2 linked regions of the Homo sapiens genome follow. The protein of the gene in region 1 interacts with the protein of each later gene in a pairwise test. Each region holds a gene or a part of one and is shown on either strand. Other genes may lie near its edges.

Region 1 (8,078 bases):
GGAAATGTATACATTGAATGGTCGGCTGTCTTGGATCATGCCATGAACTTTTGGGGCCACTTCCAGCACCAAATTTCTGTGAAGCAGATTTCAGGAATATAACTTTCTGCTGAGTTCCCCATTGCCACTGTATGTCACCTTTATGTGACACTTACTATGTCTCCACTTACTATGAACCACAGTTATAGAAATTTGCAGTTTTGTGAACAGAATGCCTGGCTCATGAAAAAAATCCAGTCAATGATAGAGGCCACGTCATTACTCTAATCCACAGGGGCCCAACAAATGGCGTTGCTGTTTTCCACATCCAAGTTCTAAACCAATTGAGAAGTAAGACAAAAGAGAAAAGTGTATGGAATCCTAAGGTCATCTTTATTGCCAATTAAGGCCTGGATGGGTTGCATGGACACAGTGGGCTCCATAACACTGAACTTTACACTTTGACAGACTGACACACCCTGTCACAAGTGCTCTAGACCCCACAGGCCGAGAGCAGAGCCTGCCCCCATAAGACTGAGAGCCTGGAACAGAATGTGTGCTTCCAGCTGGCGTCTGGCTCCCAGAAGGGAAGAAGCAGGCAGCATTTGAGCCTCACATGCCCATTTCTTTTATTGAAGCCTCCATTCAGAGGAGTCACTTCTTTTCCCTGGGGAAGAGTGGATGAAGGGATAGCAATAGGCCTGGTCTGTTGCTGCAGGGGGTTCTCTCCACATGGAAGGAAACACTGGGAGTGGGAAATGAGTATCTCCCTGTTGGAAGCAGCCCTCTGTATTGCATGCTTCATTTGTTTACTTTCCTTTCCAGACTGGGATTCGTGAAGCAGAGACATTCCCAACACCCATCCCAGGGCCTGGCACATAGTAGATGTTTAGGAAGGGGAGGAATGAATGAACTCCCATCTTCTAATGCCAGTGTTTTTCTAAAGGAGCAATTTTCTGGGGCTAAAAAGGATGCCTTTTCCCTCTCATTTTATCCTCCTCATTGCACCCAACATGCCTTTATCGTGTTTTCCATGTCCTCTCCCTTTTCTGTATTATGGAGGACAGACAAGGAGTGAGGTATTGCTGGATGATTCAGGGAACATTCTTCCTCAGGTCATGCTGTTCTTCCCACCCTGCCCAGGCCAAGCCCTGTGTATGAACAGGTAAAGGGAGTTGTGGGTGCTGCATGGGAAGAGGCAGCCCTCAGCCCTCGTCCTGATGCCCCATCTGTGATGAATGACAACGCCTGCTTTACCCACCTTGGTGAGACTTGCTGAGAGCAGAATTGGGAAGTCACTTTGGAAAGTGGAAAGTACTTTGTCGGCATAAAGCAGTGGGATCTGTGGAAATGTGTTAGAGGACATTCATGTCAGTAAAGTGGTAAAAGATGGTCCAGACCCCACCAGGGTGGCAGAGGAGGGCAGTGCCTCTACAGGCATTCCCTGGTAGTGTTCCACATGTTTTTTTTGTTTGTTTTTTGGGGGTTTTTTTCCGGTGAAATTGGAGGGTATGTCCCAATGGGAGCTAGATTCCCAGGCTGGCCCACAAAAGCCTGTATGACTCATCACATAATAATATGTGTAAGTATCTACTAAGTTCTAGGTATGTGCTAGACAAATATATCAACTCAGTTCTTACAATAACCCATCAAAGGATAATTGACCCCCTTTTTACGAGCAAAGATGTTGAGACTTATCAAGATCAAATTACTTGCCTAAGGTCATGCAGCTAGTGAGTACTGGAGCTGACCCACAGTCAGGGATCATAAGCATGATGCTATAGCATCCTTCTGGTGGAGGATGGGAAGACTGTGAGCACCAGGGATGGGGAGAGCTGAGGAGCTTGGAGGGACTTCAGATCTTCCATAGAGATCATCTGTAAAGTCAGCTGCTTACAGTCACCTGGCTTTGAGCCACCCCTACCCAGAGAGAGGAGTGGCTTCTTCACTCCCAGCCCTTTCTGAGTTCCAGAAGGAGGTCAGTGCTGGCCTAGAGATGCCAGTCTTGTCTTCAGAGATTCTGGATGAATGAAGCAAACAGGATCCTGACTGAGGCAAGGGGGGTTCTCCAGGGCGCTGGCTCCAGTGTTGGAAGCCCTGTGACTCCAGGCCACTGGCCCAGGGGCATTAATATGCCATCAATGCTGACCCTGAAAATTGGCAATTTTTTGGAAATCTTTCAGCCTAACCAAGGGCCTGACCACTGTAGTCATTCAGTTAGAATTTAATACATGTATATGGAAAGTTGAAAATTTTAGGTACTAGGATGAACATTTGGATATTCAATGCAGGAAGATCTTTTTTCTGTCATTTTTGTTTATCCATACGCCACAGGTTTCATGGACAGGAAACTGAGAGAACAATAGACTTAAGGTTCCATATAGGTGAGAAATACTAAACAGGAATTAGACTTGGTAGAGAATGATTGATGTGCTGTTCACCTTTGGGATTTGTTGCTGCCTTTGGGGATTTAGGGTCTGTCTCTGGAGATGTGTTGCAGTAATTCTCCCTAGCTGAGATTCTACCTATGTTGGAATCAACTTTTGGGGAAATGGTTTTTGTTGTGTCACCAACTTTCAAGTGCCAGCTCCTCTTCCCTGGCAGGGTTCACCCTGTTCCCTCTGTACCCTAGCTCTGGCTGTGCAGAACTAATGGGAGTTAAGGTCATGACTATCCATTATGCATTTATTGGGTGCCAGGTACTGTGCTAAGCCCTTGATCTTCATCACCTCATTTGTCCTCGTGACAGAGGAAGGCTATTATCAGGCCACCATTACCTGACTCCACCACCACCTTTCTCACCACCAGTCTCAGCTCAGCTGTGTCTCCTTCCCGGCCCTTTTAACCTTTGATTAATCTCTCCCTCCTCTGTGTTTTAGTCACACTCATATGTATCCCTGGCATAACACACACATCTTGTGGCACTGTGATAATTGGTCTGTATGTTTACTCATCCATTCTTTTGTTCAACACATTTTATTGAGTGCCTCTTATGTGTTGTCTGTTGCCCTCTTTGGACTTGGAGTTCCTTTACAGCAAGAGACTATGCCTTGTTCTTGCTGTGTTGCCAACACATACCACTGTACCTGGCTCATAGTAGATCCTCAGGAAATATTTGCTAAGAGAAGGCCTCTATGTGAGGTCTAGTCCTAGAACAATCTTCTTTCAGTCCTTCCAGCCCCAGGCATTGGAAAATGGGAAATATGTCCCTTAGCTCTTAGCTTGGTGGAGAAACACAGCTGGGATTCTGGGTGCCTGACTCTCAGTGGTCCACCTTACTGGAGTTACAGTTAACTCCAAAGAGCCAATAATATCAACATCATTTCTCATGAGCTGTGGGTGTTTATTCATTTTTTCAGTAGGTGTTGAACACTTTATAGGTATCAGGCTATGTGCTGGGAGCTAGAGTCACAGAGTTGAATAGGACACACACACACACAAGACCTACAACCTAAAGAGATCATCAGCCTAGATGGAGAGGTGGTCAGTTAAGGTTGAAACGGGTTAAGTACCATGGTTCATTGAGAACACTGCTGGGGAGATTTTTAGGAGAAGGTGAGATTAGAGAAAGCTGCCTAGAGAAGATGTCATTTGATCTGAGCCCTGAAGAGGAGTAGGATTTGGACTTGAGGAAGTAGGTATAAAAAAAATGTCTGTATGAGCAAAGGTATAAAGGTGGTAGGTTGTGTTTTGAGGGAGCACAAATGTCATTCGGATAATTAATTTGTCAGTAATTGGCAAGGTGAAACAAGGGTGACCCTCATTGCCATGGGCATATCACTATGATGTTTTTATTTCCTTCTTCCACTTCTTCCTCTTACTCAAAAAATAGTTCTGCTATTGACACACTTTGTCCCTTAAAGAACAGGGGTGGGAGAACCTTCTGTGGAGTGAAGCCCTGTCCAGACAGTCACATGGGGTTCTTAGTCCTTCAGCCCACACTGCAAATGCACACACTGGGACCCCCTATATAAAGGCCCCTCTACATCTCAGCCATGTGCTGAGAAGGAGCCCACAGAGGCCTCCCAGCCCACCCGTGAGTTTCTAGAAGATGGAGATACTGAAGGCAGCTGCCTCACTCCATCAGCAGGAGGAGGCCAGGGAGGCAGATTAGTCACTCACATCATTTTATCTGTTGAGTCAACATCTATTTTTAGGCATGGAACCCATAAAGGGACCTGGCATGTCTGTCATGGAAAGGGGGAGAGTGCCATGGATGAGGGTTCTGCTCATCCTTCATCTTCTTTGCTAGACCCATTCTCTCCCCTGAAGGTCACAGAAGCAGGGTCCACATTACTGCTGGAGGTTTAGGTCTTAATGTCAAAGGTCTGGTTTAATGTGTTCAATTCCTTTTGCACACATGCTTTTGTGTGCACGCACACACACACACACACACACACACACACACACACACACACACACTCTCACCCCTACAGTCTTAATAGGTCTTATGAATCAGTTGTATGGATTAAATAGAACTTCCAACTGAAAAACGCTAAGGCATATAGGTCTCTTCCTGTCCAACGTTGTCAGATGTGCTCTGAAATGACTGTTTTCATCATCTATTCTGAGCCATAACCACCCCAGAAATAGCTTTAGCAGGAAAGTGCTTTTGTTAGACTAGCTGTAAATTATATTTCAAATGTCTGATGTTGTTTTCTTAAAAAATAAATAAATAAGTAAATGAAAGTCTAAAATTAATGACTGCTGGGGTTTGCTTTGCTTATGTGTACTGCTACAGATTTGGCTTCTTGCAGATGGAATTTCAGATCTGTTTACACTTCTGTGTTAGCTTTTGGGGGGAAGAAAAGCAGTTGAGAGATCTGGGAGGACAAATTTACAAAGTCGAACTTATTATAACCATTGGTGAGGCTCTCTTCTCTCTCTCTACTGCCCTTTCCCTCCCTCCTTTCCATCTTGCCCCCATTTTATTTGTTGTGGTTTTTATCTGCCCTGCTTCAAAGTTAGAGGCGACTGGTCCTTGCAGATGTGACGACAAGGTCACATATCCAGTTTCGCAAGCAGATGTTCATTCAGCCCTATTTCACCAGCACTTTGTCATTTGGTGAGAGCAGACCTCATGGGAACAGACTGGAGCAACACAAAGGATGGAACATAAAAAAATCTTGCAGAGAACCTGATTGCTTTTATGTATTCAGGAAGAAGGGGATGGGGGTAGGGAGGGTGGCAAGGAGAGAAATGTGCAGAGCAGAATTTCATGAGGTTTTTTTTTTTTTTCTGGTTTATTCAAAGATTATTATGTGTTGGATACAGTAAATCATCTATACACCCACTTCCAGGAGGTAAATCTTCAGAACTCCATGTGTGGGTAGCTCTGCATTTAACAGCTGCCATACAGTAGCTATTTTGTTCTGCACTTAGAGACCCTTATCTGTGCATTTGTTTTAAGTTATTGTCAACTCTCCTGTTGTTCCTCTATTGTTGTTCTCCTGGTTCTCATTACTATTACAAGGGTAGCTAAAAATCTGAACTACTGAGTGATTTAAACTGACACCATGAGTTGTAACGGTAGATGAGGGGCTGTCATCTTGGTTGTGGACTCAGCATCTACTCTGAGGGTGATTGCCTATAATGGAATTAGCTCCTCTTGCCTTTTCCTAGGTCTCATATGCCCGTCCGAGCTCTGCCTCAATCAGGGATGCTAACCTCTATGTTAGCGGCCTTCCCAAAACCATGACCCAGAAGGAACTGGAGCAACTTTTCTCGCAATACGGCCGTATCATCACCTCACGAATCCTGGTTGATCAAGTCACAGGTTAAGTGTTTCTTTGTAATTTCTTTCCTTGTATATCAATGTCATCAGCCCTGTTACTCATAAGAGCAGAAGGCTGATGGCTGCTTAAAGCAGATGATATGGATCATGAATAGACAGATTTTTGACTTGGAAGAAAGACTTCTTATCGGTCAACTGCCCAAATTTAAAATGGGCCATCTTGGGAGGTAGGAGTTCTCCATCATGGGACTTGTTTTAGCAGCAGCTAAACTACTTGCCAGGGTTGTAAAAAGGATTCAGGCATCAGGCTGAGAGTGGAACTGTATGACCTTCAAAGTCTGATTCAGCCCTCAACCAAATAACATTACTTTTGTATGTGAAAAGAACCTGTATGCATAGCTGTAACTCCAATTCATAGCATTATAGAGTTAGAAGGAATTGTCCCATTTCACACTTGAGGAAACAGGTTGAAAGTGGGGGATCTGACTCCCCAAAGCTAGTTAGTAGCAGTACAAGGATCTGAACCGAGGATCTGGTACTGGTGTTCTTTGTCCATAATAAAGAAAGGCAGCCACCACCTCTCAGTAAGAAATGTCAGGTACTCTGGGTTGCACTTTTAATGACAAGGTGTTTTCGCCTACCTCCAATTTGATTCCAATTTAGAACTCACCCCCTGAGAATAGTTTAGCACGTTTATCATGTGATTCATGAGACAAACCTTCACAGAAGTCTGCTCTGCCCTAGACATTGTGCAGAGGGACCCTGGAGACCAAGAAAGAAGCAGGCACTGCCCCACCCTTACAGGACTCCAGTGTGGAGTCCAAATACTTGCTAGAAGCTGTCAAGTGCCCCTGAGAGCTCAGGAGAAGGTGTGCCATGCCTGGTGGGAATTGCTAGGAGGGCCCCATTGAGGAGGCAATGTTTGAATAGGAGTTTGGAGGATGTTTCAGAGGTATCCAGCAAAAAGGAGGGACAGAGCAGTGTAAGTGGAGAGGAGAGCATATCCCAAGGCATGGAATCGAGGAAGAACAGTCTATTCGAGGAGGATCAGGCAGTTCAGGGTGGCTGGTGTGAGCCTCAATAGGGAATTTGGGGCCAGATTGCCAGAGGCATTGAATGCTGTGCCAAGAAGTCTGGACTTTATCTGGGTGCAGAATGGAGCCATGGAAGGGTATTTTGTAGGTTTTGTTTGTTTGTTATTCATTTTAGAATGGGAGTCAGTGAAGAATAGGTACTATGCACAAGGTACAAAATTCAAAAAGTACAAAAGAGATACAGAAGATGTTTTTAAAGCATATCATGTGGTCAGAGTTCACTTTTCAAATAGATTGCACACTAGCTACATGTGGAGGACACATGAGAAGACTAGAAACTGGACAGTGAGTGATCAGTTATAGTAACTTTTGGGAGGTGATGATGGGGCAGAGCAGTGATAGAGGACTAGAGGGGCCAGATGCAAGAGAGCCCTGTGTTCTGTGGCTGGGAGGCATCAGTCCAGAGCCATGATAGCAGGAATGCAGGTAAACGTGTTTTGATTGGTGAGAGAGATCAGGGAGCTGGGCTCAGCCCTGGCACCACAGGTGGGCTTACTCCTCACACAATATCCACAGGACCCATCTCTTCCCAAAGATGTTTACCAGTTTGGTGTGTTCACTCTTTACAAAGGCTCTTTCTCTTTCCCCAGGAGTGTCCAGAGGGGTGGGATTCATCCGCTTTGATAAGAGGATTGAGGCAGAAGAAGCCATCAAAGGGCTGAATGGCCAGAAGCCCAGCGGTGCTACGGAACCGATTACTGTGAAGTTTGCCAACAACCCCAGCCAGAAGTCCAGCCAGGCCCTGCTCTCCCAGCTCTACCAGTCCCCCAACCGGCGCTACCCAGGTCCACTTCACCACCAGGCTCAGAGGTTCAGGTAGGCATGCCCAAAGAGGAAGAAGCCCTGCTACAGGGGTTCATAGCTGGGCAAGAGCCAGGGAAGCCCATGGTCCTGACAAATGGGGCAAGGGTAAAAGCTTCCACCCCCAGGAATCACTGTGCAAAACTCCCCCCGAGCCTCAGTTTCCATTCCTGTAAAATGAGACAGTTGGAGCAGATGCCCTTCTAAGCCCTCTTCCAATTTACTACTGTGACTGTATAAACTTTAGATTCTTTGGTAGAAACAAAATGTCTGTATTTAACCAAACATGAAGGTTCAGTTTCAACAAGAGTTAATCACAGATCAGTGACCACATTCAGCAGATTAGACTTAAGGCTGGACAGTGGCTTTTAATAAATTCAAAAAATAGACCATAAGGCAGATCCTTGCCAGAAGGAGTTGTTTTTCCTATCTTCTTTTCCCTCGGCAGGTAACTCTGTTGAGTTCAGGGG
Region 2 (8,078 bases), on another chromosome or scaffold:
TCCTGAAGTAGATTAAAACTTCCTCCAAAGGAGAAATGTTAGTATGTTAACTTAACTTTATATTCTATATTATGCAGTAAATCTTAACTATAGAAATTAAAAATTTTAAATCAGTGATCGACTCTTGGTAATGTATGAAGTGGGAGTATATAACCATAGCAACAGTAGGTTGACAGTATAATTTGTGCCTCACAGTATCTGCAGATTTACTGTTTTCAAGTTTAGAGAGAAATAAAACAAGAGACATGTAGATTCAGCTGACTTTATTTACCTTTAAACTAATAAAAATCCCTTAAAAGTGATCCTGGGACCTTTATAAGTTCTATGAATGCACAGATACCTGCCAGTGACTTAAATTCCAAATCTTGACTTAATGTGTCTACAAAATCAATGTAAGCAGATATCTTAACTTTTCGTGCTTAGCAGAAGACAACAAATTCTACATGTCTTTTTCAATTTCCCTAAAATTTTGTTAAATCTGCAAGTATGTACAATCTAGCTAATTGAAATTAATATTTAGTGTTCATCAGAGCTGTTTCACAGCAGCAAAAACTGAATCAGGGAAATAAAATTCTAAATGATGTAGGAAAAAGATAAATGCAATCAGAACAGCAGTCTAAATGTATGATATCAATATTCAACTCTTATCTGCACTGTGTTGAAAGGAAAAGGATACACCAAGAAAATTTATACTGATCACTCTGGTGATGTGACTACCACCTGCATCTGATTTATATGGGTTGTATTCTGTTCCCAGTATTAAGGATGGTATTTAACTCAGAACTCCATATAGTAAATATACAGCAGCCATTTTGTCCTAATTAAGGAATGTCTTAATACACAATATTATCATTTTCTAGAGGATCTTTATACATTAAACTAAAGTACATGATTGATTAAATTAAAGGTTAGTAATGGATAAAAAATTCATAATTATCAAGGCTTGGTACTATGTAAAAAACAAAAAGACCACAAAATTCTACTTACTAAAGCAGCTAACCTTGCCTGCAAGTTTAGGGTCACAAGCCCATAATATGTGCAAAGAAATGCAATACAAGGAACCATGCAAAAATACAGTAAAATGATACAGAAAAATGTCAAATCTAGAAAAAAAAGCTTTTATAAATACATCAAAATCAACTGTATACATAAACTGTAGGTCTAGCATTAGTTGTACCATATAGCAGAGCCAGCACTCTAAGTTCAATGCTTCCAAATCTGCGCAGGTAAGTCATGCCATCTTTGGTTGACTGCAGTACCAGGAAGGATGGGAATGAGAGGGAGGGCAAGAGTTCTGAAACATGGTGTCAACTTTCACTTGGCAGCTGGGCCTCAATGTCCACTCTGCATATGGGGCACTTCTTATTGGTAATCAACCATTGGTCAACACACACTTGGTGGAAAAGGTGCATACATGGAAGACGTCTATTATTGGCAAGAAAACAAAAAGCAAAAATTAATTTTATGATAATTGTACGTAGTTAACAAATTATATATGTAATAATTCAATAATGTTTTGAAGGTACTAAGCATCTTCCTCTTCTATAAAAAACACATCGATTAAATTAGCACTCTGGGCAATATAATATATAAATGATCAAGATAATTAACTTTCAAAGCTACAGGACCAAATTATATAAAATCTTAAAAACTGTAAGAACACAAATTACACTGCCAATTATTCCAGTTTTGTTTTGGTACAGGAGCTGCCAATGCCCTGGAGTTAGCAGTATGTTACCTGTCACATAATATTGCAAATATATTTTTAAAAATCAAATCATCACTGTATTTGTAATGCCCTTTAAAAATACATATTATCTCAAATATATATTTATTACATCATTTAATTCTCTCTCAAAAACATTACAATTCATGTGGCAAATATATAGTAACTACACTTTCCTCACTAAAAAATGTCTTATTGTGCAATGTTATTTTCTATCAAGAATATCTTTACACATTAAACTTAAGTACATAACTGATTAAAGGTGAGTAATACTTTTTTCACGGAATAATTGTTATATACACTTAATATTGTGCTACTGTTTAACAGGTAAGTTAAAAGGAGATGTAATGATTTGTTTGTTTACATCATGCCAAATTACCAATTAGAAATTGAGAAATAAAGCCCCCAAGCAAGATAGGGTAACATTAAATCTGAGTGTTAACAGTGGAATAAAAGTTACTGACTCGTGTCCATTTCTACTTCTAGCAACTGTTAAGAGTTTTTATACACTTTTCAGACTTCCTAATATCTTGTTAAAATAATAGCCTTAAAAAGTATCCCAATTATTCCTTGAACAGTATTGTCAATACTGTAAAAGCAATTAAGTTCCAAATTTATAAACCTTCATTAGAAATACAGTGTGCAAAAAACCTTATTTGTCGTATGGTAGACAATTTTTTTCTCAGCCAACTGAAGAGGTACGACAAAGTTATCCTTATAAATTAGGGCAATAATATTACTACAAGGTTCTGTTATATATGATATAGAACCTGTTTCATATGGCATTATGTTAACATTAAAAAAAAGAACAGGAAGAAAACAATTACTTAAGTGATTATACAAAGAAAATGCCTAAAATTAATATAGGGTTAACATATTAACATTTTCTAAACAACAAAGGTGCAAGAAGGGAATAGTCCTACTAGTTTAGAGGAAATTTTATGACAAAACCAGTTTATAAAAGATGCTATAGCCGAGTGCAGTGGCTTACGCCTGTAATCCCAGCATTTTGGGAGGCTGAGGTAGGTGGATCGCTTCAGCCCAGGAGGTGGAGGTTGCAGTGAGCTGAGACTGCTGCCCTGAGCCTGGGCAACAGAAGGAGACCATCTCCCAGAAAAGGAAAAAAAAAAAAAAAAAAAAAAAAGATGCTGTAAAACAGACTGCATAGGACTAATCTGGATCCCTGTTTAAGTTTTGAAGAACACATTATAACTTTCTAGGACCTCCAAAGCCTCTCAAATTCTCATTTCTGCAAGATTTACAGAAGACAATTTTGACTACGAAATTTCCCTGGCCAAACCTTGTGTGGCCCTACAATAGGCAGTATATTTCCCACTCCCATGTTGGTAACATAGATACTTTAATCTTTTATTGTTTCACTCGCCAGATGAAGCCAGTTCTACGTGCCAGAAATTGGTAACAGTATATGCCAAAAGTAATCTTTATTTGGTTTCCAGTTTACTTTTACTCTTTTTTTTCAGAGACAGGGTCTCACTCTATTGCCCAGGCTGGAGTGCAGTGTGGTGTGCTCAAAGCTCACTGCAGTCTCAAACTCCTGGGCTTGAGCCATCCTCCTGCCTTAGTCTCCTGAGTAGCTGGCACTGCAGGTGCACACCATCACATGCAAATAATTGTACTATTTTTCTTTTTTGTAGAAACAGAGTCTTGTTATGTTGCCCAGGTTGGCCTCAAACTCCTGGCCTCAAGAGAGCCTCTGGCCTTGGCCTCAAAAAGTGCTGGAATTACACGTGTGAGCCATCATGCCCGGTGTAATTTACTTTTCAAATAAAATCCCATGTACAGTTTTGACAATGGATTTTAGATAATTAATATCTAGTTACCTCACATCTTCACCTTCCTCTAAAATAGACAAACAGATAGTACATTTTTCCTCTGTGTCTTCCTCAGTCCCTTCTTCCCCATCTTGTTTGCAGTGCAGTTTCCTCTGTGAGAACCAATCAGTTGTTACCTTATTAGTAGAGATGACATTATTGAACAACTGAGTAAAGTCTGTGTTTATTTGAAAAACAAAACAAAACAAAACCACATATTCACCCGCACTTTTTTCCCAGGTAAGACTGTCATAAATAAATGGATGAATTAAGTGACTATCATCAATTAAGTATATTTTTAAGACCCTCTAATAATTGGGATCAAAAGCAAAATCAAATTTAACAGAAATTCATTCACTTAAAAGCTATTACTTTTAATCCACAATGAGAATGATAAACAATATAAACTATTTTTATCCTACCATGAGCATAAATAAGTTTTTTTTATTAGTGAATGTTTCAAGTAACATCCATTTAAATTAACATTAGTTACAGTATTTAACTTGGACAGTTGAAAACTTGAATGTACTGGTAATACCTCAATACTCTTTGAAAATAGATGAAAAATACAGAGAATAGTAATTTTCACACTTTATGATTATTCTTTACATAGTATAAAGGAGTCTCCAACCCCTGGGCTGCAAACCAGTACCTGGCTGCACAGCAGGAGGTGAGTGGCAGGTGAGCGAGCATCACTGCTGGAGCTCTTCCTCCTGTCAGATCAGCAGCAGCGATAGATTCTCATAGAAGCGTGAACCCTATTGTAAACTGTGCATGTGAGGGATCTAGGTTGCATGCTCCTTAAGAGAATCTAACTAATGCCTGATAATCTGAGGTGGAATAGTTTCATTCTGAAACTATCCCCTCTGCCACCTATCCATGAAAAATTGTCTTCCATGAAAACTGGTCCCTGGTGTCAAAAAGGTTGGGGACCGTTGGTATTGAGCATGGTTTAAGACACGTATTTAACATGTCTACCCCATAACTGTATAATGCTATACAAGCAACTGAGGGTAGAGTAGAAGAAACATACATCAATAAAATGTCCGTCAAAATAAATTGCTAGTTAAAAAAATTACAGTACTGCCATATGATGGAATTCTGCATAAGCTATTAAAAATAATAAGGGTGATCTGTGGGAGCTAATTGGCATGAAAGGCAATCTGCAAACTATGTGGTAATCATCTCCTTTTGTGTTTTTTTTAAAGTAGACAAAAATATATATACATATGCACATTATTAGAAAATGCTAAAAAATATCTAGAAGAATATCTAAATCCTTAACTATGATTTCACTTCTGGGAAGAAGGACTAGGGTCTGCAGAGTAAAAAACTGCAAAGTATATATTTTTTATACTTTCCAAAATTTTTAAACAATATGTATGCATTACTTCAATAAAAATGTCATTGCTAGAGTCTACAAATTCAAAAAAGGTATATATTACATTTATGCCTTTCAGTAACACTCCAGAAGTTTCATAGAATAAATTCTTACCTTTTTGTATTTATGTGGATATGTACATCTTTCAATTGTCCCCTGGGATGCTCCACGATTGACATTGCCTAATCTTTCTTCCAAATGAATCAGTTCCTGAAAGTGAAGAATATAATGACTGGTAAAAGCCAAGATGATTATTCCTTGAACAGAACTGTCAACATTGTATAAGAAATAAACCTCCATACTTAGAAACTTGCAATATAAATACAGTGTTCAAAAAAACTTACACATGACAAGTGGTTACTTATATATAAGTATATATATAAAACAGTTTATATGTTGCCCAGGCTGGTCTCAAACTCCTGGCCTCAAGTGATCCTCCCACCTCGGCCTCCTAAACTGCTGAGATTACAGGTGTGAGCCACCATGCCTGACTTAATGTTTCTCATAGACAGTAAGGCAAATGGTTGTTTATCATGTTTTCCTCAGCCAACTGAAATGGTACAGCAAAAGTTATCTTTATAAATTACAACAATATTATCACATGGTACTATGTAAGTCAGTATGTATGTATGTATGGAGAAGATGAAATAATTCTAGTAAATTAAGGAACCAAATCAAACAATAGTTCTAAGTCACAATGACTCCAACTTCCAAACTGACATAAAAAAAACACAACGGGGGCCGGGTGCGGTGGCTTGCGCCTGTAATCCCAGTACTTTGGGAGGCCAAGGTGGGTGGATCACTTGAGGTCAGGAGTTCAAGAGCAGCCTGGCCAACATGGCAAAACACTATCTCTACTAAAAATACAAAAATTAGCCGGGCGTGGTGGCGGGCACCTGTAATCCCAGCTACTCAGGAAGCCGAGGCAGGAGAATTGCTTGAACCCAGGAGGCGCAGGTTGCAGTGAGCTGAGATTGTGCAACTGCACTCCAGTCTGGGTGACAGAGCAAGACTCCATCTAAAAAAACAACAACAACAAACAAACAAACAAACAAACAAAAAAACAAACCACAACAAAACTTTAAATCCCATTCGAATGATTTGTTCTTCCTGAAAATTCAAACAAGACATTTAGCTACAAAGGGAATTACTTAAGTTTCTTTTTCTCTACCGATTTCTCTAAAAATTTAGCTGAGTCAAAAACATTCCGTTCCCCACCACATTTAATGGTATAGTTATATATCTGACATTTATATTGATTTAATACATTTTTATATTCTTCTATATTAGATATTTTCATTTACTCATCTTTAAATATTTCGGTAACTTTTGACCCTAAGATTAATAATACTTACAAATATTTCTGTAACTCCCAGAAGCAACATCAGAAAATCACATGTGATTCCCAGCCACTGTAGCAGTCCTACACAATTGTGTATAGTAGTATATATATACTCAATCTGCATTAAAGATACTGTGACAAACATATTCATTTATTTTATTACATACCTCAAAATTGCCCCTGAAAGGACCTCTGAATGATGTTCCATCCAATCCTGATGAAATGTAACGGATGTGAGGATAGCCTGCCATATCAGGAACCTATTTCAACAGAAGAGATAGGCTAAATCAATTTTAAGAATAGACTTGTGATTTACTGTTAACATTGAATAATTCAAGACCCTCAATGTTTTCAATTCAACTGCTCATAAAATTTGACTTCAATAAGAATACATAACTCCAACTAAGCATTCTGTAACAGGTTTAGGTTTCTGTTAAAATATAACCTAACTCTCCAAAATGCCCAAACTTAAGCCTGAGGCTCTTAGTAGCTCAAACTTGAAAAGAGTAAAATTGTCTTAAGATCCTGTCCATTTCAGAGAGCTTTATTAAAACAACAACAAAAAATGCACACAATTTTCCAACAAAATTCGACTTCAAGATAAGTTTTTTACTTCACTTCTGTTAAGCTTCCTAACAGCCAAAGTACCCTATGCCTTTTTTGCTTGATTCTATTAGGGAAACTTTTAACACTGTTTTCTAATTTTTTGTTAGTTACAGTCAATCTTCATTATTTATGGATTACATATGTGTGAACTGACCCACAGGCTAAAATTTACTTGTAACCCCATAATCAACACTTGTGCTTTCAGAGTCATTCGTGGATATGACCGGTGGCAAAAAATTGCAGTTGCCCAACATGCAACTCTGTTCCCAGCTGAGGTAGAACAGGGCTCTGCCGTATTTGAGCTCCTACTATAAACCAGTGTCTTGTTTGCAGACTGTTTAGTGCCACGTTTTTCACAGTTTTGTGCTTTTTGTTGGTGATTGTGTTGTTTAAAATGGCACCCAAGCATAGAGCTGAAGTGCTGTCTAGTGTTCCTAAGCAAAGAAGGCTGTCATACACCTTATGGAGAGAATAAGTTTCATTCACGCATGAGTTACAGTGTTGTTGGCTATGAGTTCAATGTTAATGATTCTACAATATTTTTTAAAGTTGTCTTTAAGCAGAAACACACATAAAAAAGGTTATACACTGATTAGTTGTGAACAGAGGTTTGCAAGGGTCCCATATTTGCTAATTCAGTGTTTGCAGCAACTGTATAGATCATAACTGCCATGCATAGTGAGAGTATTAGGAAAGGGCATTTCTGAGATACAGCACCATTCTTCCATCTTTATAAATAAATCTCTGACATTACTTTTTAATTAGCCTACACTGAATCACAACATACTTTAAGCAGAATTTATAGCTTTAACGGACACTTCATATGTGGAAAAGAATTTAAATAAGCAATAACTTTTAACCTTCAATAGCCTATTACTTAAATTGTTTACAACTTTTCTTATAACCAAGATCATTACTACTCAGCAGATAACCCAACCTCCTAAACATCTTCAAAGAAATCGGAAAGGAACTCCTGCATCCCAAATTATCTAAATCTTCACTTACCCTGAAAAGCCTCTCCTCCCTAGTCTCTTTCCTCCAGCCTTTATGGATGAGCTTTTCTCCTATTCGAACTCAATCCTTATCACCCACTCCTCCCTTCACCTGTTCACCCTGGGTCATGCTTACTTCACTACTTCCCACCAAGCCTCTCTCTCTTCAATATCTTCAAACAATTCCTCTCTAATGGTT

What was found.
Region 2: the proteins of ELAVL4 (region 1) and RNF111 interact in binary tests that used the Homo sapiens proteins (3 or more experiments, as listed by UniProt).

Annotation. Positions count from the first base shown.
Region 1 is NC_000001.11:50,188,164-50,196,241, forward strand, and holds part of ELAVL4 (ELAV-like protein 4), read left to right. Parts: intron 1-5,601; coding exon 5,602-5,755; intron 5,756-7,397; coding exon 7,398-7,623; intron 7,624-8,078. UniProt on the Homo sapiens protein: RNA-binding protein that is involved in the post-transcriptional regulation of mRNAs. Plays a role in the regulation of mRNA stability, alternative splicing and translation.
Region 2 is NC_000015.10:59,088,130-59,096,207, reverse strand, and holds part of RNF111 (E3 ubiquitin-protein ligase Arkadia), read right to left. Parts: intron 6,542-8,078; coding exon 6,449-6,541; intron 5,150-6,448; coding exon 5,054-5,149; intron 3,696-5,053; coding exon of another isoform or gene 3,672-3,695; coding exon 3,568-3,671; intron 1,426-3,567; coding exon 1,308-1,425; 3' UTR 1-1,307. UniProt on the Homo sapiens protein: E3 ubiquitin-protein ligase. Required for mesoderm patterning during embryonic development. Acts as an enhancer of the transcriptional responses of the SMAD2/SMAD3 effectors, which are activated downstream of BMP.